2 linked regions of the Homo sapiens genome follow. The protein of the gene in region 2 purifies or fractionates together with the protein of the main gene of each other region. This does not show direct contact. Each region holds a gene or a part of one and is shown on either strand. Other genes may lie near its edges.

Region 1 (3,500 bases), on a different chromosome or scaffold from region 2:
ATTTTATAAAAGAAAGTATCCAGAAGGCTAAAGGCAGTTGTGGAATTTATTTCTTCCCAGTGCTCTGATTGTCAAAATTTGAATAAAGCTCAGTGAAAGGAGGACAGTAATTAATGACTTGATAGCCAAACATCGTAATGATGATTTAGTGATATACTAGACTGGATGAAAGAGAGGTCACTGTCTTTTCACTATGGATTCATCATAAACAGTATCATTCTTCTCAGGAAGAAACTTATTTTTAGAACTATATTTTAATAAATTTCTCACATTCTAATATTTAATTTTTATTTTTTAAATTTTATTACCTGCTAGGTATGATGTGTAAAATGATTTTCCATTTATAGTAATGGTATAGTTTCCTTTTTATAAAAGGTTTATAAAGTTTATGTAAAAAGTCAACTTAAAAATACCAAGTTAATTCAGTCAGTTCAAAAAGTTTTGAATAATTAAACTTGGAAAGTCACTGCAATAAAGCCAAAGCAAGTTAATGGTCATAATTATAAGACTTAGCTTTTTAAAATAAAACTCTCAACTGTGTCTACCCTTTTAATTTTTTTTCTTTCTTCCCCCTAACTTTACAGTTAACCGACAGCGAGACCAAGTCAAACGTACGTACATCAATCTTAAATTGTTTCATTAAGAGCTATGTGAATTCTGTCAGTGCATTATGAGGAACAATGTCTAAGAGGATATTCTATGTTTGTTTCACAGGTTACTACTCTGTTGTATATCCAGGCTGGCCCATATATCCACGTAACAGATACACTTCTCTCTTTCTCATTGTTAATTCAGTAATTCTAATACTGTCTGTTATAATTACCATTTTGGTACAGCACAAGTACCCTAATTTAGTTCTTTTGGACTAATACAATTCAGGAAAGAAAAAACCCAAAAACCAACCTCATTCACATATGGCTTTTTTTTTAACCAATAACAATTAGGTGTACTTCTATTTTAAAACATTTCAGAAAAAAATATATGTTATAGCAATACTCTTACTCAAAAGAAGAAATTTCCTAACTCTATCAGATAAACTCATCTTTAGTATAAATAAGCATTATTTGCAGGTTGCCACAGGTGGACTTTTAGTAAGTAACCTAACCCATGTTTCAGCTTCTAAATCTGCAAAATGAGCAAGGTACAGTAGCACATTTTTAGGTGATTCTTAGTAACTCCAGTAGCCTTCATTAGTTAAAAACATTATTATTTTTTGCATGCTGCTTCGACTCTAAATATCTGGTTTTCCCTGTCTTTTTGGTTTACTACTTCCCCAGATTCAGAACAGAGGAGTAACTAGGGGATCTGATTTTAGAGGCCTTAATTTTCTGTTCATGGACTGTTAAAAGTAAAACCAAACTTTCAAAAGGGATAAACCTAAATATTTACTTGTTATCATTAGAGAGGGAACATCAAATGCTGGGACATCATTACTAACCAATAGCATCAGACACTGGATTTAATGGATAATCACAATGGTCGTAATGTATACAAAGACTTATATACCACTTTCTCGTATAAATTTTTCAAAAAATACAATAATAATATAATTTATAAAGAACACTCTTCTATGAACAACCACCACCACCAAAAAAAAAAAAAGCCCTCAGAAAATTTCTCACAAATAAGGCAACTAATGCCTGATATCTCAAAATCCTTTACAAAAGGAGATAGTTCTAGTCAAGGAGTTTTGGGTATGTTACTTTTTTTTCTTCTTTTTCTTTTCATCTGCCTCCATCTTAAGTGCAATTTCTTCAGCTGTAAGAGCTCCCAGTTTCTTATTCTTTGCTTTCTTAACCTTTTCCTTGATGCTGGCCACATCAATTTTAGTTTCAGTAGAAGCTAGACAAATTAAAAGCACAACACATGTAATACTTTAGATTTTACCAAGTAAAACAAAGAATATATGTTTAACAAAGAATATATGTTTAAGGCAGTTAACTTCAGAGTATTCTTATAATTGAATAATTGAAAGGTGATCACAGTATAAAATATAAAAACACTTGCCTAAAGCAGTTAGAAATTTCTTCAGATTAAGATAAAACAAATCATAAAATACTTTATATATTAGTACAAGTATACATAAAAATGGCATAAATGGCATAATTGAACCAATTACTGGATTCAACTATATTAAGACTATTTCCTTAAATCCTACTTCAGACTAAATTATTTTACCTACATTCTTTTCCATATTTTGGAACTTCTGAGTCATTATTTTCCATCTTGCACATTAAAATAATTTAAAATTACATGTATCCCTTCTCAATAAGTTTAATCAGCTAACCCTAAGCTAGAGGTCAAAATCTACTTCCTCTAATATCAAAACGAAAATTTAAAGTTTTCCAAATATTAATTCAATATTAATTGAATATTCAATGAATTAATTCATTTAATGTTAGATTAATTCATTGAATATTAATTCAATGAATGACTAATTAATAGTATTTTAACAAGATTTTGGTATATTTAACAACATTTTGGTAATAAAGACAATAATTTGAGAGTGTGTGGAAGTCCCCCTAATAGAAGCCAACTATCTAATCAATGCCAAAAGTGTGAACAAAATAGAGAAAGGAAGCAGTGAAAAAGAATGCAACTTTTTCTTACCATTCAAAGTACAGGATCACAGCATAAAAGAATCATAAGATAAAACATCAAACTACCCAGCAACCTGAGAAGCACAGAGTGTTAAAGCCTCCACCGTGTGGAGAAACTAAATTAGGGTAACTAGCTATTGAGTATATTGAGTACCTTCAAAGCACTCAACTGACAGGTTTTACAGACTGGAAATTATAATACTTATGACATTTCTACCTTTTATATAACCAATAATCTACCATAGAATGTAGTATTTTTAAAGCTATTAACAAGCAATATATTAAAATAATAATGTATTATATCTGTTTCTGACCCAGTCTATGTACAATATTGCTGGTGAGCCCTCTCCCTTCAGTGTGTCACTGTTCACTTTGGAGGGTTACTTTAGGAAGAGGATAAGTGTTACCACAGGGGAAAAAAATGCAGAAGAGGATGCATCAGAAGAAATGGCATGACAATGTTTTCTCTTAGTGTCTTTTAAATACTAGGTTAGTGCGAAAGTGATTTCTGCCATTTAAAAACCACAATCACTTTCGCACTAATAGCTCCTGAATAAGACCTGTCAGCATCCTTTAGTCTAAGGTGATGAGAAATCCATGTTACCGATATAGAAGCCAAACTCTAAGCCAAGATCACATAAAGAGAAGAAAAAGTACAACTTCTGATAATTCCTCTTTGAGAGGCATGACAGCAGAGCTCAGGGATCTTCTTGCATTTCTACAGAAGATGCACTGGCTGCCCTGGGTTTGTATCTTTCACAACAAAGAGTCTTTTCCAAGCACAGACCAGAGGTCAGGAGAGGACTGTCAATCCAGTTTGCACTGAAATAGGCATTAGCTGCCTCTAAATTATAAATTATCTCAGCCATCCCTTGTCCTTAGGATTAGTAATTAATGAAA
Region 2 (3,500 bases):
AATAGACAATTATCAAAAGAAGATACACAAATGGCCAACAAACATGAAAAAATGCTCAACATCACTAATGATCAGGGAAATGCAAAGCAAAACCACAATGTGATACCACCTTACTCCTGCAAGAATGGCCATAATCAAAAAATCAAAAAACAGTAGATGTTGGCAGCCAGGCACGGTTGCTCATGCCTGTAATCCCAGCACTTCCGGAGGTTGAGGTGGGCAGATCACCTGAGGTCAGGAGTTCAAGACCAGCCTGGCCAACATGGTGAAACCCCATGTCTACTAAAAATACAAAAATTAGTCGGGCATGGTGGCAGGCACCTGTAATCCCAGCTACTTAAGGAGGCTGAAGCAGGAGAATCACTTGAACCTGGGAAGCGGAGGTTGCAGTGAGCCAAGATTGTGCCACTGCACCCCAGCCTGGGCAACAGAGTGAGCCTTTGACTTAAAAAAAGAAAAAAAGCCGGGCACAGTGGCTCACACCTGTAATCCCAGCACTTTGGGAGGCCGAGATGGGCGGATCACCCGAGGTCGGGAGTTTGAGACCAGCCTGACTAACATGGAGAAACCACGTCTCTACTAAAAATACAAAATTAGCTGGGTATGGTGGCGCATGCCTGTAATCCCAGCTACTCGGGAGGCTGAGGCAGGAGAATCACTTGAACCCGGGAGGCAGAGGTTGCAGTGAGCCGAGATTGCGCCATTGCACTCCAGCCTGGGCAACAAGAGCGAAACTCCATCTCAAAAAAAAAACAATGTTGGCATGGATGTGGTGAACAAGGAACACTTCTATGTCCTGGTGGGAAAGCAAACTAGTATAGCCACTATGGAAAACAGCGTGGAGATTCCTTAAAGAACTAAAAGTAGAACTACCATTTGATCAAGCAATCCCACTACTGGGTATCTACCCAGAGGAAAAGAAGTCATTATACAAAAAAGATACTTTCACACATAATTTTATAGCAGCACAATTCACAACTGCAAAATCATGGAACCAACCCAAATGCCCATCAATCAACGAGTAGATAAAGAAACTGTGGTATATACAGGATGGAATACTATGCAGCCATAAAAAGGAATGGATTAACAGCATTTGCAGTGACCTGGATGAGACTGGAGACTATTATTCTAAGTGAGGTAACTCAGGAATGGAAAACCAAACATCGTATGTTATCACTGATATGCAGGACTAAGTTATGAGGATGCAAAAGCATAAGAATGATACAATGGACTCCGGGTACTTGGGGGGAAGAATGAAAGAGGGGCAAGGGATGAAATACTACAAATATGGTGTAGCGTATATTGCTCGGGTGATAGGTGCACCAAAATCTCACAAATCACCACTAAACTGGCACAGTGGCTCACGCCTGTAATCCCAACACTTTGGGAGGCCGAGGTGGGCAGATTACTTGAGTTCAGGAGTTCAAGACCAACCTGGCCAACGTGGTGAAACCCTGTCTCTACTAAAAATGCAAAAAGTAGCCGGGCATGGTGGCACATGCCTGTAGTTCAGCTACTTGGGAGGCTGAGGAAGGAGGATGGCTTGATCCCAGAAGGTGGAGATTGCAGTGAGCTGAGATAGCACTACTGCACTCCAGCCAGGGTGACAAAGCAAGACTCCGTCTCAAAAAACAAACAAACAAAAAAACTTGCTCATGTAACCAAATACCACTTGTACACCAATAACTTATGGAAAAATTTAAAAAAATTAAAAATAAACATCTAAACATAGAAAAGGAAAAAAAAATTTAAAATAAAAAACAGAAATGTGAAAAAAATAAATAAATCAGGTATGCTATCAGTCAAAAAATAAATAAGTAAACCCACCATTATCAATAATCATTAAACGTAAATAATCTCAGTAACTCAATTAATTTTCTTTTCTTTTTTTTTTTTTTTTTGAGATAGAGTCTCACTCTGTCACCCAGGATGGAGTGCAGTGGCACAATCTCAGCTCACTGCAACCTCCGCCCCCTGGGTTCAAGCAATTCTTGTGGCTCAGCCCCCCAAGCAGCTGGGACTACAGGCACATGCCACCACGCCTGGCTATTTTTTTGTATTTTTAGTAGAGACAGTTTCGCCATGTTGGCCAGGCTGGTTTTGAACTCCTGGCCTCAAGTGATCCACATGCCTTGGCCTCCCAAAGTGCTGGGATTACAGATGTGAGCCACCATGCCTGGCTTCAATAATTCAACTCAAAGACACGAACTGTCTGATTAAACAGCAAGACCCATTTATATGCTGCCTATAAGAAATTCACATTAAATATAAATAAGGGAAAGTAATAGTATTGAAAAACACATACCATGCTAACCCCTTAATCAATAAAGCTGGACTGGCTGCATCAATACCAAAGGACATTTTAGAACAAAAAAAAATTACTAAGGATAAAGGGGGCCATTTCATAACGATAACAAGCCAATTCATTTAGAGGATATAATAATAATCTAATATTTTAATCCATAAAACATGTATTCACATAAACTGATTGTCAGAATACATGAAACAAAAACTAATAGAACTGCAAGTAGAAAACAGTCACTCAAGAAAAAAATAAGTGGCCGGGTGTGGCGGCTCATGCTTGTAATCCCAGAACTTTGGGAGGCCGAGGCGAGCAGATCACGAGGTCAGGAAATTGAGACCATCCTGGTTAACACGGTGAAACCCTGTCTCTACTAAAAATACAAAAAATTAGCCGGGCATGGTGGTGGGCACCTGTAGTCCCAGCTACCTGGGACGCTGGGGCAGGAGAATGGTGTGAACCCAGGAGGCAGAGCTTGCAGTGAGCTGAGATCGCACCACTGCACTCCAGCCTGGGCAACAGACCGAGACTCCATCTCAAAAAAAAAAAAAAAGAAAAAAATAAGTAACACAAATATCTCTAATCTATTAAACAAAGTAAATTTGTAGTCAAAAATCTTCCTACAAAGACAAGTGCAGGCTCAGATGAATTCTACCAAAAATTTAAGTTGGGTATAAAATGTCAATCCTGTATAAATTCTTTCAGAAAACTGAACAGAATACTTCAGAAATCATTCTGAAGCTACATTACTGATTCCAACACCAAAACATTACAAGAAAACTACAACTATCCCATGAACATAAGTTCAAAAATTCTCAACAAAATTTTAGCAAATCAAATCCAACAAAATATAATTAGAATAGTATATTGTGACCAAGTTCAGTTTATCCCAGGAATGTAAGTCTAATTTCATAATTGAAAATCAATGTCATTCACCACATTGGCAGACTAAAAATGAAAAACCACCTATTTCAATATATGCAGTAAAAAAGCATTTGAAAAATATCCAACATCCAACCCTGATAAAACCTCTCAGCAAATGAGAAATCAAAGAGAACTTCCACAACGTGATAAAAAGCACCTACAAAAAACCTACAGCTAAGATCAGACTTAATGGTGAAAGACTAAATGTTTTCCCCAGAAGATCAAACACAAAGCAATAATGCCCACTTTACCACTACAATTCAAAATTCTGCTA

The links.
Region 1: the proteins of DDX24 (region 2) and KRR1 purify together in Homo sapiens (affinity purification with mass spectrometry; 3 studies listed by BioGRID and IntAct, with this or other methods). This does not show direct contact.

Annotation. Positions count from the first base shown.
Region 1 is NC_000012.12:75,498,110-75,501,609, forward strand, and holds part of KRR1 (KRR1 small subunit processome component homolog), read right to left. Parts: exon of another isoform or gene 1,843-3,500; coding exon 1,700-1,842; 3' UTR 870-1,699; coding exon of another isoform or gene 715-869; 3' UTR 612-714; coding exon of another isoform or gene 585-611; 3' UTR 1-584. Other genes in the region: GLIPR1 (glioma pathogenesis-related protein 1 precursor), read left to right, coding at 585-611, 715-869. UniProt on the Homo sapiens protein: Part of the small subunit (SSU) processome, first precursor of the small eukaryotic ribosomal subunit.
Region 2 is NC_000014.9:94,071,203-94,074,702, forward strand, and holds part of DDX24 (ATP-dependent RNA helicase DDX24), read right to left. Parts: intron 1-3,500. UniProt on the Homo sapiens protein: ATP-dependent RNA helicase that plays a role in various aspects of RNA metabolism including pre-mRNA splicing and is thereby involved in different biological processes such as cell cycle regulation or innate immunity.